2 separate regions of the Homo sapiens genome follow, and region 1 is linked to region 2. The links come from fine-mapping of genetic effects on gene expression. A gene starts in region 2. The other region holds a variant in brackets. All regions are shown on one strand. Distances are between the middles of the regions. Region 1 holds the start of MRM3 (mitochondrial rRNA methyltransferase 3). Region 2 holds the start of TLCD3A (TLC domain containing 3A).

Region 1 (16,128 bases), 56 kb before region 2:
TTACCAGAACGCAGGGAGCGAGTGCTGTGTTGGCATCGGCCAAGCTTCAAATAGTAATTTTCAGCCAGACTTTGTTTTTTCCTGTTGCCTAATTAAAGACACTGAAAAGCTGTTCTCCCCTCCTGCTGCCTTGTTCTAGGACAGCAAACTGAATTCAGGAACAATACAGACGGAGCCGGATGTGGCCCAGGAGCAGATGCGCGGGACCTAACACGGTGTTGCCCCGTGCAGCTTAGGGAGGAAATGCAATGTATGAGAGGACACACGTCTGGGAACCCTGCACACTGGGAAGCGTAGTACCAGCAGGGCCCTGAGCGAGGGCACACGCTGTTGACGGTGCCGTTGCCCTGGGCAGGCCCATGTGTTGTGCGCGCTGTGGGTGGCTGTGCACACAGGCCCGCAGGTTCAGGAGTAGCACTGAGCAGGGGGCTGTGAGCTCAAAGGATCTTTCCAGTTTGCCCCGAAGCAGCTGAATGAGAGAAGTGGGCACTTGGCTACACCCCTCACTGCTGCCGCCAGCAGACGAGGGCACACGCCCTGCTTCCTCCAGGCTGCGGCTGCGCAAGGGAAAATTCTTTGGGAACAAATAGCTGTTGACCAGTAGCTTCATTAGTGCTGGGAATATAACATGAGGGCGTTCTAGGTACACCTCGTATGTGAGCGCATGAAGACAGGTAAGTATGCCTACTGCCATTTTTCAAGGCGTGTGTCTCACCCCCTTGGTGCTTTGGGACACTTCCCAAGCCCGAGAATGTGTCAGGAGGTTTGGGTGGAACTGTTGGGTTTCTGTTAAACGATACACAACTCGTGAAAGACTCTGTCCCCAGGTCTGTAGGCCAGTGTGCAATCCAGAGGCAGAGACGGCCTCCAGTCCGGATTCCGGGTGCTTATGCCTCACTCACATGAGGAAGTCACCCACAGGTGCTAGAATGACGACACAGTAGGAGACGTGATCTCAGGGCCAAAAAATCCATCTCTCGAATGTCAGAGGACATGGAGGTCCTACTTGGCAGGCTTGCAGTGAGTACGCCCCGCCCTCGGCATCTCAGAGGAGCAGGGAAGGGAGGCTGAGGCCGGAGCTTGCTGCAGCCGTCGGCTCCTCCCTCCCCAGCCTTGTTCCCTGTTCCCTTCCTGCATTTCTTTTTTTTTTTTTTAAAGACAAGAGTTTCACTTTTGTCACCCAGGCTGGAGTGCAGTGGCACGATCTGACTCACTGCAACCTCCGCCTCCCACATTCAAGCAAGTCTCCTGTCTCAGCCTCCCAAGTAGCTGGGACTACAGGCACACGCCACCACGCCGGGCTAATGTTTGTATTTTTAGTAGAGACAGGGTGTCGCCATGTTTGCCAGGCTGATCTCAAACTCCTGACCTCGTGATCCGCCCGCCTTGGCCTCCCAAAGTGCTGGGATTACAGGCGTGAGCCACCGCACGCGGCCCCCTTCGTGCCTTTTGAGGAAGCAGCAGCCTTGGTCATGGCCCATAAGAACTCAGACTTCAACTGAAAAAAGTGGCTCTTCCCTACACAACAGTCCAGGAAGCTGGATATTGGGAGTGTGGTGAGACGAGAACTGACCCATCCATAAGCTATTCTGGATTCTCTGTCACTCTCAGCCGTGGAGCATCAAGCAGGCTTCCTGAAGCTTCGGGAGGACCTGGCTTCAGCTGCTGTCTCAGCTGCTCGAATGTAACATGGTTCCGTAGTTGAGACTTCAGTCATCCTGAGCAATAAACCAGCTCATCCACTAACTTGGCTCCTAGCTTATTACATGTGTGCACTCCCTGCACTGATGAAAACAGGAAACATGGCGGGCGCAGGGGCTCACGCCTGGCATCCCAGCACTTTCGAGGCTGAAGCAGGAGGATAGCTTGAGGCCGGGAGTTCAAGACTAGCCTAGGCAACGTGGCAAAACCCCATCTAAAAAAAAAAAAAGAAAACAGAGGAAACACAATCATGGAATTTTTAAGGTGGCAACATGTTTTCTTAAAAACAGGTGAGCCTGTCAGCTCTGCTCCTGAGGGAGAGGTAGCTTGGTCAAGAGGGCAGCCCCAGGCCCTGCAGTACAGCTGGTGATTTTCAGCCCAGAGCCCTGGAACCTTGGATGGGGAGTGTGTGTGAGGGCTGTGCGTGGTAGAATGGCAAAAGTGGGGCTAAGTGTGGCCCAGCGTGGCTGGTGCGGACATCTGGGGTTGCTGTCAACCCCGGGGCAAGCAGCGGAAGGTCCCAGGTGAACGGCAGGTCCCCAGAGGTCTGTTTCTCCTCTGGACCTTAATGACCAGGCTCCCAGCCAGGAGCCAGCGGCTGGGGCGAGGGGAGAGTGATTTCAACGCTCTCTGCCCCGAAGCAGGAACCGAAGGGCCAGCCGGTGGGCACCCAGCGTGAGCTCCAGGCACATCTGGACACCTATGCTTTGCCCAGAGTTGCTTTTCTCAGAGGCTGCAGTCACAGGGAAAAGTTGTGACGGTCTTTCCTGCTATTTCCCGTTCGTCCTCTTTCGCCTCCGTTTTTGTTCCCATGTCTTCCTGTACTCCGGGTTCTTTCTTCTGAGGTGGTCTGGGACAATCTGGATGGGTCTCCGGCTTTAACACCCCGGAGCACAGACAGCTTGCAAAATGCTCTCTGGTGGAGGGAGACTTCACTCCATCCTCTTTTCCTCCCTTTTCAACGATTTAAATCCAGGAAAAAATCGCAGCCCCGCCCTTCAGCACTGGGGTGGTTTTGGAGGTGTCGCCTGCCACCTCCTGGCAGACGCCACTGTGACAGCTACGCCACCACACAAAGGCGCGGGAGCGTGGCCAACATCCTGACAATGTTTGTCTCTCGGCCAAGCAGTGTTTTCCTTGTCAAATGTGGCTCGTTTTTTATTCCTGTTTACTGGGGAAATGGTGACAGAACAAATGTCAGACTCAAAACTGAGAATTCAAGGTAGTGATTTTCCAGAATCACTCAGCAAATAACAACCATCTGTTCCCCTGTATTCACTGAAGAAAGGACAATTTGCCTCCCTCCTGCACCCTCCCTCGTCCCTACTAAATTATACCCATGAATATATAAAGTGAACTGAAGGCACCGTGGCATATAAGCCACGGACTCTAAAGCAAAGGGATGTAAATTTCTTTTCCCTCTCACACCCAGGATAAAATGGGCTTAGAATTACTTGTCAGTGTTGGCCGGGCACTGTGGCTCACGCCTGTAATCCCAGCACTTTGGGAGGCCGAGGCGGGTGGATCACGAGGTCAGGAGATCAAGACCATCCTGGCTAACATGGTGAAACCCCGTCTCTACTAAAAATACAAAAAATTAGCCGGGCGCAGTGGCTCACGCCTGTAATCCCAGCACTTTGGGAGGCCAAGGCGGCGGATCACAAGGTCAGGAGATCGAGACCGTCCTGGCTAACACGGTGAAATCCTTTCTTCACTAAAAAAACACACAAAATTAGCCAGGCTTGGTGGCAGGTGCTACTCGGGAGGCTGAGGCAGGAGAATGGCGGGAACCCGGGAGGCAGAGCTTGCAGTGAGCCGAGATCGCGCCACTGCACTCCAGCCTGGGCGACAGAGTGAGATTCCGTCTCAAAAAAAAAAAAAAAAATTACTTTCCAGTGTTTACATTGCTTTTTCTAAACAAGGACAAGGTAATACATGGTTTATTCTTTCACTGTTATTTTGTAACGAGTCAGTGGGAGTATAACCCGGGGAACAAATCCCACGAGATTGGTTTTAGGCTGGAAAGATGTGAGCTTCCTTTTCGTGACTCCTGCTGCTTGAGCACTGTCCTGAGGTGTCTGGGGAGACTGGAGTGGGATGGATTTGCATTCTCCAGGCCGCCTTTCCGCCTGTCCTCTCTGCACCAGCCTTTGGGAGCAGTGTTGGGGGGACACTTGCATTGCCCATTCATGTGGAGCTCTGGGCAGGCCCAGACCACAGTGGGGCTCCAGAGCAGATGTTCAAATATTCAGATGTCAGCCTGGGAGGACACTGTCCCTGCAAACACCCCTCCCCCAGGGGAGAGCAATCCCAACCTGCCCCTTGGCACGTGAATCATGCTTGGTCATTTGGTTTTACTAGGAAGAGGGAGTTTGACTAGGAAGTTGGGGGAGTAGAAGAGAAAGAAGGTTTCTCCTGGGCACACCAGCAACACACTTGACCTCCCTGGAGTGAGCAGTGTCCAAACCATTACGGGAGCCGCTGGGCAGAGGGGTGTGGGGAAACGCTTCCTGTGTTGTCTTCAACTCCAACTCTGTGTGGCTGCAAAAGCAGTGCTTTTTTTTTTTTTTTTGAGACGGAGTCTCGCTCTGTCGCCCAGGCTGGCGTGCAGTGGCGCGATCTCGGCTCACTGCAAGCTCCGCCTCCCGGGTTCACGCCATTCTCCTGCCTCAGCCTCCCGAGTAGCACCTGCCACCACGCCTGGCTAATTTTGTGTATTTTTTTAGTGAAGACAGGATTTCACCGTGTTAGCCAGGACGGTCTCGATCTCCTGACCTTGTGATCCGCCGCCTTGGCCTCCCAAAGTGCTGGGATTACAGGCGTGAGCCACTGCGCCCGGCCTCCCGAGGTGCTGGGATTACAGGCGTGAGCCACTGCGCCCGGCCTCCCGAGGTGCTGGGATTACAGGCGTGAGCCACCGCACCTGGCCAGCAGTGCTTAAGAGTCCCATATTCCACCCACCCACCCCATCCCCACAGTTCCTTATAGATACATTGATGACCATCAGCACTTGCCCTGACACCCTGGCTACATCCTGGTTTGGCCGCTAGTAGGTAAAGATCCAGCTTGCCCTGGGCCCTGGAGGGGCTGAGAGAACAGAAGGGTCCTGCCGCTGTATTGTGGGCGTTCATTCTCAGAACCTTGGCCTCTAAACATTGGGGGATGAGACGTAAGTAGGACTAACACAGGGAACCAGGAAACAGTGACACTTTCCTGACACATGCAGGGTGAGGCTGCCGATTTTGAAATTCAGTTTTCCGCATAGACTTCC[G/A]TCTCTGCAAAGTCCTCAAAAAGGTATCTGCAGAGGTGCCAAGAAGGTCTGACATGGCCTGTTGAATTAAGCCGTTTCTATGGATACATAAACAGTGGCTCAGTGAAGCCCTGAACAATCTCAAAGACAGACCATCTGAGCCCAGAGCAGAGCTGCTGGATGCCATGAGCGTAGCCCTCAGCTTCCTGGTGTTCCCTTAGCCACGTCCTCGTTACCAGGCCAAACGTGACAGGTACTGTGACACACCAACGACACAAAACAACTTACTAACGTAATCTGCTGCTCATAGTTTATTTTCCACCAACCAGTGATCAGCTGTGAGTGATGTGGCTGTGACCTATAGCTGGTGCTTGGCGATTACAAACACCCACCAGCTGGTGGAGCAGGCGCCTCCCTGCCAGGATGATGCTTCAGGAACTTTCTGGGCACAAAGTGCTTCTTGGTGGACAATTTTTAAAAACACACAGAGCCACGTGGGTCACCTATTGTCACCAAGAGAAAAAAGAACCTCAAAATCAGTGACGCGACAGGAAGAATTCGGACCTGTTCTTTCTGAGGAAGTTCTTATTTTTCCTGTAACTGTATGACGGCATCACACCTTCCTCCTGAACGTGGGGGCCATAGTCACTGACTCCGCCAGCCTCCCACCAGTGTGCTGGTGTAGGAGGAGCTGCAGACGTCCTCAAGCAGAAGTCACTTCTGCGTCCTCAGTGGTAACTCCTGTCCCTGCTCAAGTCCTCCGCCCTCCCCCGCAGCTGTCTTTTCCCTTCGAAAAGCAGGATGCTTGCCGCCATGGCCGAGTTGAGGCTGTCCACACCAGGCACAACGGGGATCAGCAGCCTCTTGCCACCAGTGCTCTCGGCCAGCTGCAGGGACTCCAGGCTCACGCCGTAGGTCTCCCCGCCAATCACCACAGCTGCCGGCGCCTCTGTCCAGTCCGAGTCGTAACTCTGAACCTCAACATGAGGCAGCCAATCTTGACTGGCTCCGGTTTCTACATCTTCCTCTTCCTCATACTTGTGAAACTTCATCACTCGTTGATCACACACCCAGCCATGGTCACTAGCTTTATTAGACATCTCAGCCTGGGCATAAAGGCCACAGTTGTCAGCCACATAGACCCGAGTGTCAGGGGGCAGGTAATTGGGCACGGTTTCCCATTCCAGATTATTGATAATGGGCATCCGGAAATGTGCGCCCATACCCGCCCGGAGCACTTTGGGCTCCCAGGCATCCACACAGCCTGGAAAATAAAAAGGAAACAATCAAGATGTTACAAATCTTCCCAGACCAGGGGACTGTGGAGTAAGTCTGATCAATTTTGGATCAGGAGATAAACCAGTTCTTCTATGATAGCTTTCTTGAGGGATGGGACCTTCTGCCTCTCTCTGACAGCATCCAGCACAGCGACTATAGGAGTCACTCCTGCTAGTGCTGAAGATATTTTATGCATCCCTTCAACATCTCCCATTCACACGTGCCAGACACTGCGCAGAAGATGCAAAGATAATGAAAGTCCCCAACCCCAAGGAACGCACAGTGTAGTGGGGTGGTATTAAACAGATGGCTACAGTATCAGTAACTGATGTAAAAGAAGCACCCACACAGTCATAGAAAACCCACGGACAAAGCAGGGCGATGAGGAAAACCATCTAAAAGACCACCACACTGAGATAAAGGCCCAGGCAGAGGACAGAGCTAGGAGAGGAAGCGGGAGAGTGGCGCAGCCTAAGGACTGCAAGCATGGTGAGCCGGCCAATCAGCGGTGGCGCTGTGGCGGCACAGGAGGTGAGCCAGCCAATCAGCCGGTGGGGGTGTGGTGGCACAGTTGAGGTGGCCAATCAGCGGGTGGGGGGGGGGTGTGGTGGCACAGGAGGTGAGCTGGCCAATCAGCGGGTGGGGGTGTGGTGGCACAGGTGAGCCTGCCAATCACTGGTGGTGCTGTGGCGGCACAGGGGGTGAGCCGGCCAATCAGCGGTGGCGCTGTGGCGGCACAGGAGGTGAGCCAGCCAATCAGCCGGTGGGGGTGTGGTGGCACAGTTGAGGTGGCCAATCAGCGGGTGGGGGGGTGTGGTGGCACAGGAGGTGAGCTGGCCAATCAGCGGGTGGGGGTGTGGTGGCACAGGTGAGCCTGCCAATCACTGGTGGTGCTGTGGCGGCACAGGGGGTGAGCCGGCCAATCAGCGGTGGCGCTGTGGCGGCACAGGAGGTGAGCCAGCCAATCAGCGGGTGGGGGTGTGGTGGCACAGGCAGTGAGCCGGTCAATCAGCGCTGGGGCTGTAGTGGCACAGGAGGTGGGAGGTGGGCAGGCCAACACGGAGGAGGCCTCCTATGGGAAGCTGAGGAGTTTGGCATTTTATCAGAAGACAGTATCATGCCATTGAGGGATCTTAAGCAAAGCAGTGACAGAATCAGATCTATAGTTTCATCAAGACCCATTGGGCTTCAACGTTCAGTCTGCACCGGAGCAGGGAACACTCTAGAGATGAGGCAATGAGGCAAGAGGCAACCCCGGCAGCAGCCTGCGACGCCTGGCCTTTCCCAGGGGCGGCTCCTCACCACGGGCGGGCTGGGAGAGTGGCCGAGGGTGGGGCCTCGCAGTGACTGCATGGCCTCCCACCCTCCCCCGCACAGCTTGTTAGCGCAAGTCTTCTCCTGACGAGTTATTTTAGAAGTTCATTTGTCAAACCTCGGGATAGACGAACCAGGCAAACCAGATTTTAAACGGAGAATAAGACACAGAGGATGTAACAGCGCCTGCACCCCCAGCCACGGGCTTTCCCTCTCCCTGCAGGAAACCAGAGATAGGCCCAGGCGTGTGAGAGGAGCGGCCGAGGCTGACCCCTCTGCCTGGAGGGGAGAAGGGAAAGGGGAAAGGCGAGACTCCTCCCGTCATCCTCATGTCCTGGATACTGGGCACCACACCAAGTATTTCCTACCTTCTTTCCCTATTTCTTACACCCCAGCCATCAGTATCAATGTGAAAACCACAATGCTTGGATTATTTAGATTTATTTCCAAATCCCACAACAGCTATCAGAGCACTAAATAATGGGGCGAGTAAGCGGGTACTGATCACAGAACCCCAGCACGTAGCTCTCACACTGGCACAGAAACGTATTCTAGCAAGGCGTGACTGAGAAAGAGCTGCGAGCAGCAATTTAGGCAAGTCTCAACAACGGGTGCCACTATTAGTTTACTTTTAATGGTGGCTGGGGTGTTTCTGATGAATGGTACTCTCTGTCCCCTCCACCTCCCAAGGTGTAAGAGACATTTTAGGCGTGCTCCAACTGTGAGGAAAGTCTGTTTAGAGCCAAGCCTATTAATCCCTATTTCTGATGAGAAGAGACAGAAATGTAATGAGGCGAATTTGTGTGCGGGGCATGTGACCCACGCTGAGGCTAAGGGAATCTAAGGGAAACGGATCACAATGACATTAGGATTCAGAGCTGCTGACGTCATTCCTTTCATAGGATTCAGAAGTCAAGACTCAGGAGTGGCTCATATACTCAGCAATTTGGGAACTCAATATCATTACATAAAGAACCAGAAACCAAGTGTTAAAATTGGCATCTATTTCTTTTCCATAATCGATGTGAAGTTCTCTAACAGCCTAGCAGGTTTCATGATAATTTTAAAAGATAATAAACATGGCTGGGTATGGCGGCTAATGCCTATAATCTCAGCACTTTGACAGGCCGAGGCAGGAGGATCCCTTGAGCTTAGGAGTTCCAGATTAGCCTGGGCAACACAGCAAGACCCCGTCTCTACAAAAAACATAATTTTTAAAAAAGAGAATCAACATTGACTGAATTACTCGTGAGGCAGGTAAGGTATGAAGTAACTTCTGTGCATCATCTCACTTAATCCTCACAGTGACCAGGGAGATTCTGTTATTCCTCCCAGTTCACCAACGAGGAAGCTGACACTTCAGGGACTACTGCTCAGGGACCACAGCTAGTGAAGGCAGACCCATCCAAAGCCGTGTCTGCCTGCCCAGAGCCCTAGCTCACCTAACAATGGTCGACTTGGCTGGGCGTGGTTATTCATGCCTGTCATTCCAGCTACTGCTCAGGGACCACAGCTAGTGAAGGCAGACCCAAGATCCAATGCATGTCTGCCTGCCCAGAGCCATAGCTCACCTAACAGTGATTGACTTGGCTGGGCATAGTTGTTCATGCCTATAATTCCAGCACTTTGGGAGACTGAGGCAGGAGGACTGCTTGAGTCAGAGCCAGTTCAACACCAGCCTGGGCAACATAGTGAGACCCCATCTCTTTAATAAAAAAAAAAAAAAAAAAAAAGACCAGACCAACTAATCCACCTGGTTTATTATTTTTTTGAGAGGGAGTCTCACTCTGTCGCCCAGGCTGGAGTGCAGTGATGAGCTCACTTGACATGTGATGAGCTTTGACATCCCAGGCTCAAGCAATCCTCCCACCTCAGCCTCCCAAGTTGCTGGGACTGAGTACAGGCACACCCCACCACACCCAGCTAATTGTAGTTTTTTTTGTAGAGATGAGGTCTCACTATGTTGCCCAGGATGGTCCTGAACTCCTGGGCTCAAGTGACCCTCCTGCCTCGGCCTCCCAAAGGGCTGGATTACGAGTGTGAGCCACTATGCCTGGCCTTTGATGTCCTTACCTTTGGTGAGTAACACTTTGCTGCAGCCTGCCCCAGCTGCAGATCTCAGAATTGTCCCCAGGTTCCCAGGGTCACGGAGATTGTCACAAATCAATAATAAAGGCAGTGAATGCTGAAGCTGAGTCTTTGGATATGTCATCTTAACATGGTCAGGCTTGGCAAAAATCCCTGAGGAAACAAAACAGGTGGTTTACTTGCCTGGTGTGGGCACGGGGAATAGTCTGACTTTTCATTTACTTATCAATCTTGATATGGTCTTAGTTACATAAAAATACAGGAATACAGGCCAGGTGTACTGGCTCATGCCTGTAATCCCAACACTTCGGGAGGCCAAGGCGGGTGGATCACCTGAGGTCAGGAGTCCGAGACCAGCCTGGCCAACGTGGCAAAACCTCGTCTCTACTAAAAACACAAAGATTAGCCAGGCGTGGTGGCGCATGCCTCTAGTCCCAGCTACCTGGGAGGCTGAGGCAGGAGAATCGCTTGAATCTGGGAGGTGGAGGTTGTGGTGAGCCAAGATCACGCCACTGCACTCCAGCCTGGGCGACACAGTGAGACTCCCTCTCAAAAAGAAAAAAAAGGAAAAAAAAAACCACGAATACATTCTGATTGGCAAAATTCAAACAACATAAAATTCTACCAGTACCACTCTCCTCCCCCTCAACTGTTCTGTTTTGGAGTGTATCCTTTTAGAACTTGTTCTATGCATCTACCTATATATATGCACACCTGTCCATATGTAAATGTGTTTTACATTCCGTGTCATACTCTGTATTATTCTGTAATCGACTTATTTACGCAACAATATATCTTGAACTTACCATGTCAATATGTTTGAAGCTACTTTTTTCCTTTAACTGCTGTAGGCTATTTTTTTTTGAGACAGAGTCCCACTCTCTCACTCTGTTGCCCAGGCTGGAGTACAATGGTGTAATGCTGGCTCACTGCAACCTCTGCCTCCCGGGTTTAAGCAATTCTCCTGCCTCTCAGCCTCCCAAGTAGCTGGGATTACAGGCACCCGCAACCACACCCGGCTAATTTTTTGTATTTTTAATAGAGACGGGATTTTGCCATGTTGGCCAGGCTGGTCTCGAACTCCTGACCTCAGGTGATCCACCCTCCTCGGCCTCCCAAAGTGCTGGGATTACAGTTGTGAGCCACCATGCCCAGCCTCTATTTTGTAGTATGAATGTACCACAGTTCATTTAGCTCTTCCCCTATGGACTGTTAAATTATTTGAATTTTTCCCTGTTACAAATGCTGCTGCAATGGGTATCCCTGTAGGACTGTCTGTCCATGTGTCTAAAAATTTCTCTAGCATAAATACCTGTGAGTGAAATGGACAAATGATGTGCGTGCACTATTAACGTTCACACAGGCTCTTTCAGTTTATTCACATCAGGAACTCATAAATACCTGTTTTCGGCTGGGCGCAGTGGCTCATGCCTATAATCCCAGCACTTTGGGAGGCTGAGGTGGGCGGATCACAAGGTCAGGAGTTTGAGACCAGCCTGAACAACATGGTGAAACCCCGTCTCTAATAAAAATACAAAAATTAGGCCAGGCACGGTAGCTCATGCCTGTAATCCCAGCATGTTGGGAGGCTGAGGTGGGCGGATCATGAGGTTAGGAGATCAAGATCATCCTGGCTAATACGGTGAAACCCTGTCTCTACTAAAAATAACAAAAAAATTAGCCGGGCGTGGTGACGGGCGCCTGTAGTCCCAGCTACTCGGGAGGCTGAGGCAGGAGAATGGTGTGAACCCGGGAGGCGGACCTTGCAATGAGCGGAGATCACGCCACTACACTCCCGCCTGGGCGACAGATCGAGACTTCGTCTCAAACAAACAAACAAAAAACAAAAATTAGCCAGGCATGGTGGCGCATGCCTGTAATCCCAGCTACTCAGGAGGCTGAGGCAAGAGAATTGCTTGAACCCAGGAGGTGGAGGTTGCAGTGAGGCAAGATCGCGCCACTGCATTCCGGCCTGGGCAACAGAGACACTATCTCAAAAACAAAAAACAAAACAAAACAAAACCTGTTTTCCAGCTCAAACCCTTCTTAAAAGCGGGTCTATCATTTGTTTCCATTTGTCCCAATGTGATAGAAAAAACAGCATGCCATTATTTTAACTTGCCTTTTCTCTGATTACTAGAGAAGCTAAACACCTTACTGACTGACTGCGATCTTCTTCAGTGAATTCCTGTGCTCCTTTAACTGTCTTGTTTCTACAACCTGTGCCCATCTTCCTACCAGGTAGGCTTTTAAAAAATAGTTTATAGGCTTAAATATTTAAAAAACAATTATTAGCCTGCTATACTGATTTATCTTTCCTTTATCACTCATTTTAAAATTCAAACTACATTCCTAGGAAAAAGAATATGAATTTCAAAACTTGAATGCATCAAAGTAACAACCCCTTTTTCAAATACGCTGGCTCAGAAGCACTGTCTTAGGGACATACTCTGCAAAACGAAGGGGCTGTAGGTGCAGTGAACGCTTGAGTCACTTCCAAGGCCTCACGCTGGAGGTCCAGAAGCCTGGGAGCTTTAGAATGGGTACAGCCACTTACTGGCGACCGCTCTGTCCTCAGTCTAATACAAAGGAGTAAAATGGGGTCTGGGACTATCTGGGAAAATGAAAACCCTAAGTGGCCTTCTTAGTGGAAAATTCTCTCCTTATTTAATGATCTCTACATGATAAAATTATATATACATTATATAATAATCTACATTATATAATCTCTACATTATTAATCTCTAAAGTTTTATGGAAAGAATTTATGGGAAAAGAGAAAAATTGGAAAAAGGCTAATAACAATATTAAAAATGGCTTTGAGTACATGAAATTGCTGTGGTATAGATGAAGTTATTCACATGGGTGTATCACATATCCACAAGTTTCTTTTTGAATCACCATGTTTACTGGTAGAGGTGATAATGATAACCTTTTAGTAAGCTTTTTTTTTTAAGCCAAGCACTACCCTAAACTCTTTATGTATAATTATCAAATATTCAATCCCTTTGTAGTCTGCTCCCAAGGGACTGTACAGTTTTTTTGAATCTTACTAGTATTTTGTCGTATATGATTGCTACAATAAATGGGCTACTGACTGAAGTCAGGAGATGAATGAAATAGTACTTGTACTGAAACATGATACAATCAAAGATTTAGGATTCTTTCTAAAAGATGGTGCAGGTAAAAAGCCTATCCACCACTGAAGGCAATGGAAGGGTATTAGGCGTCTGTGTGCTGTGAGAGAGCCTCCACTTCGGAGTCACAGATGGCCAAAAGCCATTCAGTAGGGCTGAGGACCTTAGAAGTCCTTTACTTCTACTTGGATGTCTGTGGTGATGAGAACCCACTATACGGAGGCCCTACTTATGTCGCTGGATTCTGGGGAGTGTCTGTCTAAAGCCTGACAGGTGCTGCCAGTTCCTATCCATTTCTCCCTTATTCCCTGCCCTCAAATCTAAAATATAGTAACATAAGGATAAGCCAGGAAATGATGAAAGCAGGTATGATGATGAAGTTCAAGATGGGTTGGCCACTGTAAGCACACCTGCCCCAAGTGACAAGCACAAGTTCAAGATGGGCTGGCCACTGTGAGCACACCTGCCCCAAGTGACAAGCACAAGTTCAAGATGGGCTGGCCACTGTGAGCACACCTGCCCCAAGTGACAAGCACGGTAAAAATGAATAACACTTTCACTGAAGCATGGCGTGTGGATTAGAGGGCTGTAGCTAGTGAGAATATGGTTACTTAGCATGAGTAATTCTAGGTACTTTAGTAATCCAAGTCCCCATCCTAGGATCTAAGAGCTCTGAGTGCAGAGGCACAGATCCCTGTGACTCACTGGGTTACAGAGACAAGAGATGGTTCCCCAGAATCTCCTCTCTCAGCAGTTCAAGGATTCAGTTTTCATATCTTAAAACTCCCATGTCAAAAACGTATGAAAAACTTATCTTCTCATATTTAGACCAAAGACTTTGTAACTGCTAATCAACATCGGAGTTACATAAGGTTAAGTCAGATTCAGCCAAATGAAGGAACAGACTAGAAGACAAGGTTCTCTGTTTATTGGGCTAAACGGGGCAGTAAATTGTGGCTTGTACCTCGCTTCTTAGATCTGCTTCTGGAATAAGCAGTTTATTGACAGTTATCACCACATTGGCAGAGGTTTTGCAAAAATGAAGGGCTCAATCTTTCAGTAAACGCTTTCTTAATTTTTAATCTGACATAGAAAGTTGAAGAAGTAATCTAAAAAATAGAAGGTTTGAGGAATAGTGGTTCTTCCTAGAGACCATAAAGAGCCACAACACAAATGATAGTGAAAAACGGGTTTCAATTTCCATTGAAAATACTCTAAGATACACAGGTTTGAGAATTATATTTTTCTAATTGTAACATTTTGAATTTCATTTCAATGCTGCTGTCCTAAGACAAGTATGAGAAATTAATCCTAGGTCTCCACACCTTAAGATACACTGTGTAAGGCCAGGCATGGTGGCTCACGCCTGTAATCCCAGCACTTTGGGAGGCCGAGGCAGGAGGATCACCTGAGGTCACAAGTTCGACGTCAGCCTGGCCAACATGGTGAAACCCCACCTCTACTAAAAATACAAAAATCACCCGGGCATGGTGGCAGACGCCTGTAATCCCAGCTACTGCGGAGGCTGAGGCAAGAGAATCCCTTGAACCCGAGAGGCGGAGGTTGCAGTGGGCCGAGATCGCGCCATTGCACTCCAGCCTGGGTGACAGAACAAGACAAAAAAAAAAAAAGATACACTGGGTAATCACTAACCCATTATTCCTTGTGGCGTTACGAGGTCGGACCAATCCTTGATATCCTCAAATTTCACCTTAATGAGGCTGACACCTTTCAGCTTATCGACTGGCAACTCCTTTAGGTATTCTAGACGGCTAAAGAAGAACATTTTTGGCACAGCTCCAGCCTTGAGAGCGTCTGAAATGAGCCTGCGACCTTCCAGCAGGATCTTCCCTTGTTTTTCCCGAAATGGCCTGGACTTTACTATTGTCATTACACTGCTGTAGATGGAAATAAAAAAAAAAAACAGGTAACTATCAACATCCTTGTTACTGAGACACGCTTAGTTGTAACAGAAATAAAGAGCTACGGAGAGGGCCGGGCGCGGTGGCTCACGCCTGTAATCCCAGCACATTGGGAGGCCGAGGCGGGCGGATCACCTGAGGTCAGGAGTTCCAGATCAGCCTGGCTAACATGGTGAAACAAAAACAACAACAAAGAGCTAAGGAGAAACAGAAGCTAATTCCAAAGACGCTTATTCGGCCCTCTGTGCATAATACAAAAACCAGCGGGCTGTACTGGAAGAAGTCCTCCATCGGAAGGAGGTTAAGGTTCCGCTGTGCGACGGGAAGGGAAACGAGAACATTCGACAGGCTCAAGAACCACATCACCTCAGCCTCCTGTCCCCGGGATAAGCTTTATCGTAGCGAAGCCCAGACTCTTCCCAGGTGCTGGGAGCGCGGGATGCGGACTCCTCGAGCGGTTGTTTCTCTCGTTGCTCCTGGGCACTGGCCTCAGATGGTGCCTTGCGGGGCTGCTTCCCAGGAGCGCGCTTCTGTTCCACCACCTCTCCGGAAGGAAACACCACTTTCACTGGGCTCCGCCGCAGCGCCCGGACCCAGCGCCTCGCGTCAAGGTCCCAAGCCTGGACCACCTGCAGCAACGGTCGCACGACAAACCTCGCGGGTCTCACCAGCGCCGCCATGTTCCCTGAGACCCGGGCTGCGTCACGAAAGCGCGCCGTCGGCGGCTAGTGACGTCACGGCCCGTGGCGCCCTTCGTGGACTGGGCTGTACGGTGCGCGTGACGGCTGCGTGCGGCGGGAATCATGGCTGCTCGCAGAGCTCTGCACTTCGTATTCAAAGTGGGAAACCGCTTCCAGACGGCGCGTTTCTATCGGGACGTCCTGGGGATGAAGGTGCAGGCCGGGGCCGACAGGGGCTGGCGCGCGAGGCTGGAACCGGCGCCCGAGCCGGCCCTGGCGGAGGGAGGGGAAAATGGGTGTGTCGTGAACCTAAGCCGGAGGGTGTCCGACCTTAGGCCCTGCGCGGTGTTCAGCTTCAGGAGCGTGGCGAGTTGCCGTTGGGGATCATAGGCCTTGGAGAAGGGCCTAACACGATTAGTCCCCGCGGTGTGCCCACGCACGTCCTTTCATTTAAGCCACTCGTAAACGTTTATTGAGCCCCGCCCTTGTGGAGCTTACCGTCTACCGGAAAAGACGGTAAATAAAATGTTATATAATGCTTTCTAGTTAATATTTGTGTTTTCCGGTTTGGAGCCTTTGATGTAGATAAAATCAGCGTATTCAGAGTTCTGCTTCTAGCAAGGCTGGTCTGAATAGTCCGTTTCGGATACTCAGTCTCTGAATATATGCTCCAACTCTCAACCCATCTGCTTTTCAACAGCACCCAGAAGCGGTCTGTCTCGGGTCCTGAGGAGCTGTTATTTGCAGGATTCAGTTGG
Region 2 (16,128 bases):
CGGGTACTGTCCTGAGTGGTTTGGAAGGTGGGTAGCCGCTGATACAGGGACAGGCAGATGTGCAGACACTTACCACCCTGGTCCACCGATCCCACCCCATGCTTCCACCTCCCAGAGCTCTTGAGATAAGACCTTAAGAAGGATCCTTGGGCTTGCATTAAAACCACTTTGCTGTCCGTGGAGGTCTGACAGGACCCAATAGTTGTTACTACAAAAGTGCTTTTGCAAATAGGGCAAGTTAGAAGAAGGAGGTAATATGAATATTCTTTAGAAAAACTCAAATCCATCGGCTTATCAATACCCAAAGTCTGAGGCTACCCAGGGCACAATTTGGTCCATGGAATGCTGAGTGGAGGAGGCAGCTGGTGTGAGGCTGCGCCTGACTCCCAGGAGCATTTAGCCATCCTTTTTGGCTTGGGGAGTGTCAAAGAGCCGGACTGCCTTCCTGCACAGCAGACAGAACCAGTAGATCTGAGGAGCTACGAGGAAGGCATTGGCCACGTTGCAGTAGAATGGGATGCTGAAGGGTACTTGGAGCAGGCTTAGTCCCTGCTGGCGGCCATAGGACCAGTACATGAAGGGGAAGAGAAGGATCCGGCAGGAAAGGAAGGTGGCCAGCGTGAGGATTCCATTCACCTTGTACAGAAGGGTGTGCTGCTGCTTTAGCTGCAATAGAAGAGGAAGGAAAAAGGTAAGGTCACCAAGAAGCTGGGCATCAGGGAGCGACGGGCCCAAGTCCCACCACAGTAAATGCCACACAGGTGCAGGTGCTCATCAAGACCTTGGCTGTCAGATTCCCTGGCGCCCAGACGTTTGTCTAGTTTTCTAACACTTGGAGAAGACATTCTTGAACACTATCATATTGAGATGTGCAAATAACCTCATTTTCTCCAATAGTGATTTTGAATTTGACCCAGGCCACCCAGCTGACAGGAGTACAGGAACCGTGGATTAAAGTATGTGTGTAACCAGGGAAAAAATAGAATGAGCTGTATCAAACTATCAAACTTAGATCAAACCTACAATTTCACCCCCACTGGCTGAGATGACCAGCTGACCTTTAAGGCTGTTGAAGGATCTCTCATCCCACTCTCCTGGCACTAGGGATTTCTCCACACCCACCATCTCCGAAGGAAAAGCAGAATCCACTCCCTCCCACACTCTTTCTGCCATTTCATTCATGCATGCCTGAATCAGAACCCTCACTCTCTCTGCCATTCATTCATACATGCCTGAATCAGAACCTTCACTCTCTCTGCCATTCATTCATACATGCCTGAATCAGAACCCTCACTCTCTCTGTCATTTCATTCATACATGCCTGAATCAGAACCCTCACACTCTCTGTCATTTCATTCATACATGCCTGAATCAGAACCCTGCCCAGCGACACAAACGGAGTGCTCAGTTCTGCCGTGAAGATGCAGCCGACAAAGAAGTCCCCAAGGTCTCCCCGGAGCCTCTGCGGATGACGAAACGAAAAGGGGAAGTAAGTGGAGGTTAAGAAACCACCAGAAGGAAAATTCCAACGAGGGCTACTGAAAAGGGTAACTGTGACGGGCAAAGGACGCTCAATAGGCAAGCGCAGACTACTGTACCGCTGCTTCCGTGGCAACAGCACTTTGATGGTCCAAGCCCTAGGATCCAGAGGCAAATTCAGACAGGATGACGGCGTCCCACACCAAGCTCTGAATTTTGATGACAGCCGGAAGGAAGGCTGCAAGCCTACTTTTGTGTATCGAACTTAGTCATGCCAAGACACTCAGCCTGTTTGGTTCAACAAAATGTGCCAGGCCCTGTGCTAGATGTTAGGGTCTCAAAGCACCCTAGATGTTCTGGTTCCTAGATGGTAGGTCCCAGACACTTCTTAAAGAATTTAATGCACGTTACCCTTATTTATTTATTTTATTTTTATTTTTTGAGACGGAGTTTTGTTCTTGTTGCCCAGGCTGGAGAGCAATGGCGTGATCTCAGCTCACTGCAACCTCTGCCTCCCGGGTTCAAATGACTCTCCTGCCTCAGGCTCCTGAGTACCTGGAACTACAGATGTACAGCATCACACCCGGCTAATTTTTGTATTTTTAGTAGAGATGGGGTTTCACCATGTTGGCCAGGCTGGTCTCGAACTTCTGACTGGGATTACAGGCATGAGCCACCTCGCCCGGCCTCTTTTTTCAAGAAAGCAGTAAGCATGGTAAAATATCAGCTCTGCCACTTAGTACCACTGAGAGATATAAGAATACTCTTAGAGCCCCAGTTTCTTCATCTACAGCATAAGACTAATAGCTTCTAATATTTAGCAAGCTATGAACTTTTAAATCACATGCCTGGCAGGGCGCGGTGGCTCACGCCTATAATCCCAGCACTTTGGGAGGCTGAGACGGGAGGATCCCTTGAGCCCAGGAGTTCAAGATCAGCCTGGGCCTCATAAGGAGACCCCCATCTCTTTATTTAAAAAATAAAATAAAACTACATGCCGGCCAAGAGCAGTGGCTCACGCCTGTAATCCCAGCACTTTGGGAGGCTGAGGCAGGTGGATCACCTGAGGTCAGGAGTTTGAAATCAGCCTGACCAATATGGTGAAACCCCGTCTCTAATAAAAATATAAAAATTAGCCAGGCATGGTGGCGTGCATCTGTAAACCCAGCTGCTTGGAAGGCTGAGGCAGGAGAATCACTTGAACCCGGGAGGCAGAGGTTGCAGTGAGCCATTGCACTCCAGCCTGGGCAACAAGAGCAAAACGCCATCTCAAAAAAATGAATAACTAAATAAATGAATAATTAAAAAAAAAAACGCATGCCTTCCCCTGGCCAGGCACTCAAGAGTGAGGAATTTCCCCTCAGCTTTCCCATTGCTTTTCTTTGTTGGGTGGGCTTTTATGGGGAAATGGATCTGGGGAGAAAGTAGGAGGCTATTTGCTTTGAGAATCTGTGTTTTGTGACCTAAGAATAATCCACACAGTGCTCTCTGGCACTGTTATGTTGCTTTGTATTATATTTGTATTTTATATTGTTTTTATCTTGTATTGAACTAAGGATAGAACCTCTGACAAACGCTAGGGAATCACAGAGCGCTGGGGGTTTGTTAAAAAGAATGTTGGGGCCGGGTGCAGTGGCTCGCGCCTGTAATCCCAGCACTTTGGGAGGCCTAGGCAGGAGGATCACTTGAGTCCAAGAGTTTGAGACCAGCCTGGGCAACATGGAGAAACTCTACAAAAATTACAGGAATTAGCTGGACGTTGTAGTGTGTGCCTGTGTTCCCAGCTTCCTGGGAAGCAGAGGCAGGAGGATCACTTGAGGCCAGTAGTTTGAGGCTACAGTGAGCTGTGATCCAACAACTGCACTCCACCCGGGGTGACAGAGTGAAACCCTGTCTCAAAAAAGAAAAAGTATGTTGATGTTGATGTTGGTAAGGAGGATCATGAACGTTTCATGTGTAATGGTGTTCCTCCACTATTCACCTGGGGGAGGTGGCTCTGAAGCAGCAGGCACAAGGAGAATGGGTGCCTATGAGTGGCAAAGAAAAGAGGGGCAATCCCGACTCCTAAGTAACGGTCAAGACATCCAGCTCAGGCCGGGCGCAGTGGCTCATGCCTGTAATCCCAGAACTTTGGGAGGCCGAGGCGGGCGGATCACTTGAGTTCAGGAGTTTGAAATCAGCCTGGCCAACATGGCAAAACCCCATCTCTACTAAAAATACAAACATTAGCCGGGCGTGGTGGTGGGCACCTGCAATCCCAGCTACTCAGGAGGCTGAGGCAGGAGAATCGCTTGAACCCGGGAGGCGGAGGTTGCAGTGAGCTGAGATCACACCACTGCACTCCAGCTGGGGCGGCAGAGTGAGACTGTCTCAGAAAAAAAAAAAAAAAAAGACACCCAGCTCAACCCAGCTGCTGGTCTGCTGTCCTGGAAGGCCATACCTGTGCGACTGGCACAAGGACAAAGAGAATGACCGCATGATGTGTGATCATGAGGCGGTTTCGACTTAGGAAGTTTCGAAGAGTGAGGGAGGGCGCACGGTTCTGGTCTCTGGTTCGGCACCATTCACAGAGGTACATGGCGTACGAGTCATAGATCATGTATGGAATCAGAAACCACACATATTCCCGGGCAAGCCAGTGCCTGAAAGAAAGCATATGAATGGCCCGTGAAATCATTGTGGATATCCATTATGAAGGCTCACAGCCAAGCTTGGTGCTTGATCAGCTATTATTATTCCAAATACTTTACAATAAAGATGTTGAAACTGATAAACAGGGAGAGTAGACCACTTGCTCTCAGTTTCAGGGCCAATTCGTGAGTGTCAAAGGCAAAAAGCAGGCATTCACTCAGCCCTGCCTGTTGAAGCAGCTTGCTGTCACTACTTGCCTGACTTAGCTACTAATTTGTAGTAGATGTTCTGGCATTTTGTGATAAAACTGATTTTGATATAGATAGATATACAAATGATTCAACGGCCCCACCAAGAAGCTGGTTTGGAAAGTGTCCCAAATCACAAATCCAACATTTCTAGTTTAACTCCTTAGCTGCTCAACAGTTGGGGGTTTTACTAACTTAAATCCTGGAACCTGTGAGTTTTCTCTTGTCTGCATGCAACCCCACTCTATGGAGTTTCTGGGAGGCAACCCTGGCCATTTTCTTTACAATTCTAGAGCTGGCCGGGTTCGGTGGCTCACACCTGTAATCTCAGCACTTTGGGAGGCTGAGGCGGGTGGATCACTTGAGGTCAGGAGTTCAAGATCAGCCTGGCCAACATGGCGAAACCCCGTCTCTACTAAAAATACAAAAATTAGTCAGATGTGGTGGCGCACACCTGTAGTCCCAGCTACTTGGGAGGCTGAGGCAGGAGAATCACTTGAACCCGGGAGGCGGAGGTTGCAGTGAGCCGATATTGCGCCACTGCACTCCAGCCTGGGCGACAGAGTGAGATTCCATCTAAAAAAAACAAAAACAAAAAAACCCAAAAAGCAATTCTAGAGATAATCTCAATTCCATTAAGAAAAACAGGTCTGGAGGCTGGGCGTGGTGGCTCACACCTGTAATCCCAGCACTTTGGGAGGCCAAGGCAGGTGAATCACAAGGTCAGCAGTTCGATACTCGCCTTATCAACATTGTGAAACCCCGTTTCTACTAAAAATACAAAAATTAGCTGGGCATGGTGGTGTGCACCTGTACTCCCAGCTACTTGGGAGGCTGAGGCAGGAGAATCGATTGAATCTGGGAGGCAGAGGTTGCAGTGAGCCGAGATCGCGCCACTGCACTCCAGCCTGGGCAAAAGAGTGAGACTCCGTCTCAAAAAACACACAAAACACAACAAAAAAAAGCAGGTCTGGAAATGAGCCTGGAGCTCAAGGGCCACATTACAGCGGTTAGGTACCAGGAGAGAGGCTAGGTCAAAAGACAGTTTTCCCATTTACTTATCCAAAGGGGCTGAATCAGTATTTGCTGAATGGAAATCATAGTTGATCACCGTCCTAGAGCAGATTAGAAGGGAAGCCTCTACAATTCATACAATGTGGTTCCCAGTGATAAGCATTCCACAGATGTTTTCTGTGAAGAAACATCTAAATTGAAATCATGTACTATTTGAGGATTCCATTCACATGGTCAGCAAACGTTTGATGCGCATCCACGTATTAGGTAGAAAACCATTTCGTTTTATGGTTCTCAAACTACCTGAACATCAGAATCACCTGCAGTGCTTGTTAAGCGCTCCAGTCCCCAGAGATTCTAAATTGTAAGCCGAGGGCCCTGAAATCTGTATTAACTTTGTCTCTGATTTCGGACGCAGCCAGTCCGCTGAACTGCAACACTGGAAATACAGTCTACGGAGGCGCCATCTGAATTTGTGCTCTTGAGCAACTCCACACTTACCACGGCGTAAATAATGAATAAACAAATAAGGCAAGCAAGTAATGGCAAGTATAACACACTTGTAGGTGAATTCATTAGCCAGGTTCCTTTTTTTTTTTTTTTTTTTTGGTTTTGGTTTTTGAGACAAAATCTTGCTCTGTCGCCCAGGCTGGATGTAGTGGCGCGATCTCAGCTCACTGCAACCTCTGACTCGTGGGTTCAAACGATTCTCCTGCCGCAGCCTCCCGAGTAGCTGGGATTACAGGTACCTGCCGCCACGTCCGGCTATTTTCTTTTTTTTTTTCTTTTTAAGTAGCGATGGGGGTTTCACCATGTTGGCCAGACTGGTCTCAAGCTCCTGACCTCAAGTGATCCGCCCACCTCGGCCTCCCAAAGTGTTGGGATTACAGGCAGGAGCCACCGCACCCGACCTAGCTAGGTTTCTTTTGGCCAAAAAGATGCCATACTTATTCCAATGCCCATCTATGGTCTCAGGTGCTTTCTTCAAGCAATTTCAAGTAAAATACCTATAAACAGCTACTAAAATTTAGCTGAAATATAACTGGCCTCTCCCCTTGAAGGGAACCTAGGGTTTTCATGTTTTCACCAATTCAGAGAAGAGATCTGAAATTGTGACTCATGAGTAGAATCCTCTGAAGATTTATTAGCAAGAGATCTGGATTATAATCTTCACTATCACTAGCCTGTGATTTAACTTTCTTTGTAAAATGAAGATGATAATCCTTGTCTGTCTTACCTGTCAAAACTGCAGTGAAGATTAAATAATTAAATGTGGGAAAGTCGGCCGGGCACGGTGGCTCATGCCTGTAATCCCAGCATTTTGGGAGGCCGAGGCGGATGGATCACCTGAGGTCAGGAGTTCAAGACCAGCCTGGCCAACATGGCTTTACTAAATATACAAAAATTAGCCAGACGTGGTGACACATGCCTGTAACCTCAGCTACTCAGGAGGCTGAGGCAGGAGAATCACTTGAACCTGGGAGGTGGAGGTTGCAGTGAGCCGAGACCTCACCACTGCACTCCAGTCTGAGTGACAGAGTGAGACTCCATCTCAATAAAAAGAAAGGCGGCGGGGAGGGGGAGTCCTTTTAAATGTTAAAAGGTACTATACAGGCTGGGCACGGTGGCTCACACCTATGATCCCTGCACTTTGGGAGGCCTGAGTGGGAGAATGGCTTGAGCCCAGGAGTTCAGACCAGCGTGGGTGACAGAGCCAGACCCTGTCTAAAACAACAACGTACTATCTGAATTAAGTACTTAAATTGAGAAAACCACCTGGAGCTGTGACTTTGTCATTTTAGTGTCTGAATCCTTTAAGAATCTGACTAAATCCTTGGCCCCATACCACCTTCTGCCTATAATTTGGGGGGATTTTTAACTCCTTCTATCTAATCGCATTCTATGTGAAGGCATAAAATGAGAAGGCATATAATAGAAAAATATTCAGTATATAGTATATGAACCCTGAAAGGCCTTTTTTGGCTGGGTGCAGTGGCTCACGCCTATAATCCCAACACTTTGGGAGGCCCAGGCAGGAGGATCGTTGGAGCCCAGGAGTTCAAGACCAGCCTGGGCAACGCAGGGAGACCCCTGTCTCTACCAACAACAACAAAAAAAAGTTAGCCAGGTGTAGTAGTGTGTGCCTGTAGTCCAAGCTTGGGAGGCTAAGGAAGACGGGTGGCTTGAACCCTGGAGTTCAAGACTACAGTCAGCTGTCATTATGCCACTGCACCTCAGCCTGAGGTCTCGACAGGAAAAAAAAAAAGTAAAAAATTTGCTGGGTGTGGTGGCTCATGCCTGTAATCCCAGCACTTTGTGAGGGTGAGGCAGAAAAATGACTTGAGCCCAGGAGTTCAAGACCAGCCTGGGCAACATAGTGAGACCCTGTCTTTAAAAAAAAAAGAAGAAGAAGAAGAAGAAAAATTGTACCCAGCCACACCAATATTAACCTTTGGTGTCTACAATCGATGTCACTTGATCTATCGTAGCATCTACTTATTCATCGCCAATAGCCAGTTTTGTTTTTAAAAAGGCAGAAGAAAAGCACAAAAATCATGACAGCAGGATTGATCCCAGGTAAGACCGCAGGCTAGAGTGAGACGGACAGCTTGCTCAGGCCCCTCGCAGTTCAGTCTCAGCAGGTGAGAAGCAGGACTTGGCAGAGCCCACAGGAGAGCAGGGCCTGGAAAGGCCGTTCAACTTCCTGCACATCCGACTGTGGTCCTTCAACTTGGGAGAAAGTGAGTGTGATTCCAGCAAGACCGGTGGGGAAAAAAAAGGCTTGAAATAATAAAAGCACCACCATTGTCCAGGTCTAACTACTGTACAAAGTCGACTATTCTGGTCTTAATTTATGATTTGTTTCACTGGAACTGCAGATAGGTGCACATTTCCTGACCTGCCTCTGGACTGACCTCTGATAGACGTACAAGTCCGTGTTCTAAGCGCTGGGAACCTCTCAATCACCTTTAGCAAATCTGCAGGAAAAGCAAGAGCGGCGTTTGCGTGGAAGGGGGTGGTGGGTTGGTTCCTTTCCATGGAGGGGGCTCTGCTAACCACACTGGACGTCTGTTAGCCAGTGATGCTCCAGAGTGAGAACCCAGTGAAGCCAACTGCAAGAATCAAGCCACACTCCCAGTCGTAAATGCTTCCACGCTTATCTCTTCCATGAAGGACCTGGATCCCTGGCTCACACCACCTGAAATCAGACTCCGACTCTGTCGTCCTCCCTCATTTCCGTGGACTTTCTCCTAAGCTGGGGGTGCCCGAAGACTCCGGAGAGGAAGAAGGAGCCCATTGTGGTGCCAGCTTTTCCCATTAGTCAGCTTTCTGAGCGCGTGTGCTGCGAGAGCCAGAGCCTGCGAGCTACTGAAATGTGACATTTGCAACAAGGCCCCGGCCCGGGCTCTTACCTGCCGGTGATCACGTCGTCGCAGGAGCGAATGATGACGATCCCCGAGCCGGTGGCCAGCACGGCGTGCACCGAGGAAACCAGCCTAGCGCGGGCGGAGAGAACAGCGCGCGCGCTCAGTCCGGTCCGAGGACCGCAGGGAGCCCGGCCCGGCCCTTCGGCCTGACTCTCCCCAGCCGCAGGCAGATGTGGGGAGCGGGCTCCGGAGGCTCATCGGCCATTCCCGCCCGCCCCGGCCCCGCTCCCGCCAGGGGAGGACGCGGAGGGGCTTCGGAAACTCGGGCCGCCGGGACGCGGAGGGAGCAGCCCCCGGGCTTCCTGCCGCCCCCCTTTTCCGCCCTGGGCCCCGCGGCCGGGTGGGGTGCGGTGGGCAGCGCCCCGGGCCTCGGGGGGCGTCTCGGCGGCGCCGGTACCTGGTGCTGATCATCACGCAGTCGGTGCGGCTCCATCCGGGCTGGGAGCGGCGCAGCGCCCAGGTGCAGAGCGCGAAGAGCCCCGGGAAGAAGAGCGCGCCCCCGGCCAGCGTCAGCAGCATCGGGGCTGCGGGTCCGGCCGCCTCGCTGGCGCCGCGTGGCTGGGTTCGGCTCGGCGCGCCCCGGCCCGGCCGCGCGATTTCAACCCTCCGCCCCCGTCCCCGTCCCGCCTCCGCCCGGCGCTGGCCCCGATCCCGCGGCGCGGCTCTGCGCGTGACCAGGCCCGGCGGCTGCGATAGGGCGGGGCGGGGTCTCTCGCGGTCCCTGGGCCCGGAGGGTTCCCCGGCGTCCCCGGCGGGCGGGTGGGCGGGGGCGGAGGCGGGGACCGAGGCGGCGGCTGTGGCCGGGGCCGCGGCGCGCGCGCGTTCCGAGTCCGCCGCTCCCTCCCGAGCGGCCGCGGGGCCCAGGCGGAGGCGGGAAGGGCCGCGGCTCCCGGCTTCTGTTCCGTCAGCGGACGCGCCCCTCCCCGACCTGCTCTTCTCGCCGGCCCCGGGCGAAGGGGCGGGGTGGGCGCGGGGCCGAGGAAGCCAGGTAGGAACCCCCTCCGGGGTGGGGCGAGGCCCGCGGGGAAGGAAGGAGGGAGGCGGCGTGTGGCCCTGGGTTCGCGGGCCCCGTCCACCAAGCCCTGGTGCTTCTCGGTGGGAGGCCTCAGGATGTGGCCTCTCCCCGCACGGCCGAGATGCTTTTCCCGGTGCCGCCAGCGGCTGCAGCCGCTCCGGGGTGGCCCTCAGGAAGCGTGAGGTCCGGGGGCCTCCAGCAGCCCCTCTCCACCTGCACCAGGAGGCGGACTGTGGAGGCTGCAGGCTCTTACTGCCTCTCGGCTTTGGATCTATCCGGAGACACCATCCAGAGGCGTAGGGACTGTGGTGTTGTTCACAACGTGTCGTTATTTAAAAGTATCGGGGTCGGGCGCGCCTGTAACCCCAGCACTTGGGGAGGCCGAGGCGGGCAGATCACTTGACGTCAGGAGTTCGAGACCAGCCTGACCACCACGGTGAAACCCCGTCTCTACTAAAAATACAAAATTAGCCAGGTGTGGTGGTGCCTGTCTGTAGTCCCAGCTACTCTGGAGGCTGAGGCAGGAGAATCGCTTGAACCTGGGAGGCAGAGGTTGCAGTGAGCCGAGATCACGCCACTGCACTCCAGCCTGGGCCACAGAGCAGGACTCTGTCTCAAAAAACAAACAAACAAACAAACAAAAAAACAGTTATCGGGACAGGCGTCTAAACTTGAATGAATTGGAATACATTTCATTTGTGCCAAGCACCAATCACATGGATGAAGACAGGAATTTCAGTATCATTGGCTTCTGTCCTTTAGGAACTACCAGCTTTATTTTGCTTTGGTCTGTATCTTCCTCAGCTAACAAACGTAGGGGGTGGGAAATACAGTTCATTTATGTTACTACAAATGAAAGGTATGACGGGTCTCCTCAGATCACCGTCATGCAAAATGCTGACCAAAATCCCGTATGAGGACTTCGGAACAGCTGGGCTCGGCTCTCTGGGCCACGATTTGCTGGTCCGTGAAATGAGAGGGAGGCTGGATCACTAGCTCTTTAACGGTCTTCCAGCTCTAGATTCTTATGAGTCTATGACTTTTACAAAGTGGCAGATGATTTCTGTTAGGTGCCAGTTAAATTACTTTAACACGGCAGTTAGTGATGTAGGAACTGGTGTAGAGTGAGCACAGCTTTTGTTTTTTTCAATTTGGATTCATTCATGATGGAGTCTGAAGATGTTTCTCAGGTTTAAAAGATAGTTTTCCTTCAGTGGTAGTATCAGTTACTAGGCTGTGACCTTTTGGAATGAATGTAGCCTCTAACATCTTCCTATATGTGGTTAAGAAAAGGGACTTAGCCAACAGGACGGTGGCAGACAGCCTCAAGAAAAGCCTCAAACTTCGTCCACTTAGGGCAACATCTCTAACTCCCAAATTCACTGCTGACATACTCAGTGAAAGGAGAAAGCCACTTCAGGTTGGTCCCAAGATATCTGACAAATGCGACGCTCTCTTTATTTTCACATTCGCTTGTGGACAAAACCAGCTACCTGTGAACTCTCCATTCTCTCCAGGAAAACGACTCTGTGCAGTCCACTGTCTCTTTCCTAAGCATTTATCACAGTGACCTCCAGCGCCAGTGTTTCCAGAGAGTGACAGGTGGTTACAAGTCCTCCCTGCCTTCCCTCCTTAAAGGGAGCAGCAGCTTGGCAGTGAGTATGCTGGCACCTTTGAGTGGTGGGAACCAGTCTCCCCTACACAAGAAGCTGTAAGGCATCTTTATGAGTTGAAAACAAAACAACCGATGTTTCATGTATAGAAAATAGCAAGTAAAGGCCGGGCGCAGTGGCTCATGCCTGTCATCCCAGCACTTTGGGAGGCCGAGGCGGGCGGATCACGAGGTCAGGAGATCGAAACCATCCTGGCTAACATGGTGAAACCCGGCCTCTACTAAAAATACAAAAAGTTAGCCGGGCGTGGTGGCGGGCGCCTGTAGTCCCAGCTACTCGGGAGGCTGAGGCAGGAGAATGGCATGAACCCGGGAGGCGAAGGTTGCAGTGAGCCAAGATCGTGCCACTGCACTCCATCCTGGGCAACAGAGCAAGACTCTGTCTCAAATAAAAAAAAAAAAAAGAAAAAAGAAAATAGCAAGTAAGATCAGTTTCAACACCATGCTCAGTGAAGTCACCAGACTGTTTATGTTGAATCACCATAAAGCTAACAAGCAGAAACATGAACCTTAGCTTTTCAAGCGATCAAACCCCTGTCGGCAAATGGTAAGGCCAAATGAAAAACACGGGGCCTGGTTTACACAAACTTCCCCTCATCCTTCAAAAGTCTCGAATCAGCTGTTTCCTTCTCTAAGAAGGTTTCCAGGTCTGCCTTTGGGTTTGGGTAACGAGGCTGTTGTTTTCTCATTTGTATGTTTCTCCACCAGACTGTTAGGTCCTAGAAACAAGGACTGTGTCTTTTCATTTTGTACCCCAAGTGAGGCTGGCACATTCTGAGGGTGCAATACATGTTTCATACTTTCCAAAGCTCATACCTGTTGAGTACTTACTGTTTGCTAGGTCCTATGTCAGATGTTTTGTCTACATTGTCTCATTAAATCCTCACAACAGATGTTATTCTCACTCTGTGTGTGTGTGTGTGTGTGTGTGTTTGTGTGTATCAGCAAAATGAGACTCAGACCAGAGCAATTTAAAAATCGCCCCAGGTCACACTGCTGGTGGCGAGCTGGGATTCAAACTCAGTACTTTCTGCCTTTAGTTCCATGTGCCGGATGACTATACTGCCTTCAAGCCTGATAAGCAAGGAGGGAATAATAATCTTTCACAATATAGTTTCTGATGAATACTGTTCCTAATTATTTACTCATAAATTTGTATGGTGAATTGATGGGCTCTGATGCTGCCATGAACAGTATTCTCTGTTTATATGTAACTTTACAAATTTTCAAAGCACTTTCACGTGTAGTAGCTCACCTGGGTCTCAAAATAACCCAGTGAGGTTGGCTAAACCTGTTATTTCCATGTTACACATGAAGAAAGCGAAGTGCAGGATGGGCCGCTGACTCACCACCCTGTGAAGGGACAAGGCTCAGGTTAGAACCTGTTCCAGGGTAATTTCCACTACTCCAGGCTGTGGGGCTGGGTTTCACCAGTTTGTCATTACACTGCTTGTGTGGGTTTCCAGAGTGAAATTTGGGCTACTTAATGCCAACGTAAAACTCACTTACCAAATGTAGACTGTCGCCCCCTTGAACAGAGAATTTATAAAGCTCCCCATTCTAAAGGGCTACGGAGGGATTTTTCTGCCATGAAAGCATGTGGGCCTGCCTTTCCATCTCCTCTCCCCCATTCCTCTGGACCCCACTCGCTATCATTAAGGAATAGGACACAGGGACTCTCCCCATATCTGTTTCCTGGTTTCTTCAGCCTTAAATGGAAAATACCGTATTTACTTGTAAAATACTTTGTGAGTTCTCAAGTGAATGCCATTAAGATATGTGATGTGTGGGCAACTACCCTTGATCGAGGACCTTTTCCTCCTATCTGGGAAAATCATGTACATGAGAAAGAAGTGAGATCACACGTGAAGCGCCTCCACGTAGTGAGCTCCCGAACCAAAAGGGAACTTAGGGGTCTCTGTCCGCTCATCCACTTTAAAAATCCTAACACAGCCTGGGCACAGCAGCTCACAACGGTAATCCCAGCACTTTGGGATCCGTCCAAGGTGGGTGGATCACTTGAGCCCAGGAGTTGGAGACCAGCCTGGACAACATGGCAAAACCCTGTCTCTCAAAAAAAAAAAAAAAAAAAGCCAGATGGGTGGAACCCACCCCAGTAACTGTAGTCCCAGTTACGCAGGAGGCCGAGATGGGAGGACTGCTTGAGCCTGGGAGACAGAGGTTGCAATGATCCCAGATTGTGCCACTGTACTGCAGTCTGGGCGACAGAGCAAGAACCTGTCTCAAATAAATAAATAAATACCCTAACAGAGAAAATGGACATCTGTTCTGAAGTAAAAGTTACTTTGTGTAGACCCATACTTCATTTCCACAGTAGGGACCATTGAAGCAGAGAGAGGGCAGGAAGGACAAAAGGAGAATGAAGAAATAGGAAGAGACATAGAAAGATACGGCACAGGGGGTGGGCACGTGGGCACGGTGGCTCCTGCCTATTATCCCAGCACTTTAGGAGGCCGAGGCGGGAGGATCACTTGAGCCCCGGAGTTGGCTCCTGCCTATTATCCCGGCACTTTAGGAGGCCGAGGCGGGAGGATCACTTGAGCCCAGGAGGTGGCTCCTGCCTATTATCCCGGCACTTTAGGAGGCCGAGGCGGGAGGATCACTTGAGCCCCGGAGTTGGCTCCTGCCTATTATCCCGGCACTTTAGGAGGCCGAGGCGGGAGGATCACTTGAGCCCAGGAGGTGGCTCCTGCCTATTATCCCGGCACTTTAGGAGGCCGAGGCGGGAGGATCACTTGAGCCCCGGAGTTGGCTCCTGCCTATTATCCCGGCACTTTAGGAGGCCGAGGCGGGAGGATCACTTGAGCCCAGGAGGTGGCTCCTGCCTATTATCCCGGCACTTTAGGAGGCCGAGGCGGGAGGATCACTTGAGCCCAGGAGGTGGCTCCTGCCTATTATCCCGGCACTTTAGGAGGCCGAGGCGGGAGGATCACTTGAGCCCCGGAGTTGGCTCCTGCCTATTATCCCAGCACTTTAGGAGGCTGAGGCCGGAGGATTACTCGAGCCCGAGAGTTAGAGACCAGCCTGGGCGACATGGTAAAACAAAAAAATACACTAATTAGCCGGGTGTGGTGGCGTGTGGCTGTAGTCCCAGCTACTCGGGAGGCTGAAGTGGGAAGATTGCTTGAGCCCGGGAGGTTGAGGCTGCAGTGGGCCATCATCACAGCACTGTACTCCAGCCTGGGTAACAGAGTGAGATCCTGTCTCAACACACACACACACACACACACACACACACACACACACACACACACACAACGCCAGTATACACTTTGATACAGGAAGATAGACATAGAGATGAAGATCTAAAGATTGGCACAACAACAGAACACGAGGAAAAGGTCAGACACGGAAAGAAAGGAAGGAGGTGTCCAAAGAGGAGAACAACAGCCTTCTGCGGAACTTCATTCTCTTTGGCAACAAAAGCCACACTGCGTCTGAAGAAATACGGTTCAGAGAATGAGCTGACTTGCTCTTAGGACTTTGAGTGTGGCCAGAAAGAAGTCAATCACCCTGCTCTTCATTTCTCCTTCACTTTGTTTGCCTGATCAGTGTAGCCCTGAGCTGATATGTGTGTGTGCGTTTCTCTGGCAGACCACATGCCCCTGACGGTAGGGGCCGTCTGCCTGGGAGGCAGCCACTGCATAGCGCATTGGAGTTGGGATCCGAGAACCTGAGTTCCAGTCCACGCTCCACCACCTGGAAGCTGTGTGACCTGGAGAAAACACTTTGCCTCCTTCCCCAGTAAAATGGCGGTTCCTGCCTCTACCCTCCAGGATGGCTGGGAGAATTAAATGACATCCTATTTTCAAAACGTTAAACTGTGTGCTCGGCACAGGCAGGGGATTCTTGTTCTTTATACCGGATCCTCAAGGCATAGCCCCCTGCTGTTAAACTTCTCAACAAGCACCTGCTGGATTACAGATTCCCTAGGTGGCCTTAGCCCGACTCCAGACGGCAGCTTCCTTGGTTTTATCTTAAGATTCTTTGCAAGAGCAAACTGTGAGGCCGGGAAGCACAGCCACACCCCAAACCCATGGTTTCTACAAACAGCGACCGCAGCTGCATGCTACACGGGAGACTCCGCTCTGATTCCTGCCGGTAAAAACCGTAATTTACACAAGGAACCGATGATGGAGTGCTGCTTTTATGTATTGCTGTGTATTTTTCAAAGCACTTTCACATACATGTTTCTTTTGCTAAAAATGCAAAATCTGGCTTGTTTGCAGATAGTCACACCTATCTAAAAGCAAACATTTCTAAACTCAGGTTTCAAAAATATTTAAGGGCTGGCTGGGCACAGTGGCTCACTCCTGTAAATCCAGCACCTCGGGAGGCCAAGGTGGGCGGATCGCTTGAGGCCAGGAGTTCCAGACCAGCCTGGGCAACGTGGTGAAATCCCGTCTCTACAAAAAAAAAAAAAAACAAAAAAAAACTTGTTGTGATGTTGCGTGCCCGTAGCCCCAGGCACTTAGGAGGCTGAGGTGCGAGATCACCTCAGGTTGAGCCTGTAGTGAGCTGTGACTGTACCAGGCACTCCAGCCTGAGTGGCAGACGGAGACACTGTGTCAGAAGAACAAAGGTGGGGGTGTGTTCCTCACTCTGTTGCCCGGGCTGGTC

The links. PIP is the estimated chance that this variant, and not a neighbour inherited with it, causes the effect.
Region 1: its variant is fine-mapped to the expression of TLCD3A in thyroid (GTEx, PIP 0.97).

What each region holds. Positions count from the first base shown.
Region 1 is chr17:781,621-797,748 of GRCh38, reverse strand. It overlaps MRM3 (mitochondrial rRNA methyltransferase 3), which reads right to left and starts at 15,396. Exons shown (of 4, transcript NM_018146.4): 1 at 15,057-15,396; 2 at 14,422-14,666; 3 at 9,617-9,784; 4 at 5,240-6,215. The coding sequence starts at 15,370. The coding sequence ends at 5,680. GLOD4 (glyoxalase domain containing 4) reads left to right here and starts at 15,469. Exons shown (of 9, transcript NM_016080.4): 1 at 15,469-15,583. The coding sequence starts at 15,494. RefSeq lists enhancers at 6,586-6,880, 14,869-15,417, 15,089-15,438. The variant G/A (reference allele first, on the strand shown) is at 4,973.
Region 2 is chr17:725,839-741,966 of GRCh38, reverse strand. TLCD3A (TLC domain containing 3A) reads right to left here and starts at 9,371. Exons shown (of 5, transcript NM_024792.3): 1 at 9,198-9,371; 2 at 8,786-8,869; 3 at 3,920-4,121; 4 at 1,367-1,462; 5 at 1-666. The coding sequence starts at 9,319. The coding sequence ends at 397. LOC124903893 (a long non-coding RNA gene) reads left to right here and starts at 9,587. Exons shown (of 2, transcript XR_007065572.1): 1 at 9,587-9,788. RefSeq lists silencers at 8,955-9,054, 9,125-9,394, 9,415-9,894 and an enhancer at 11,864-12,158.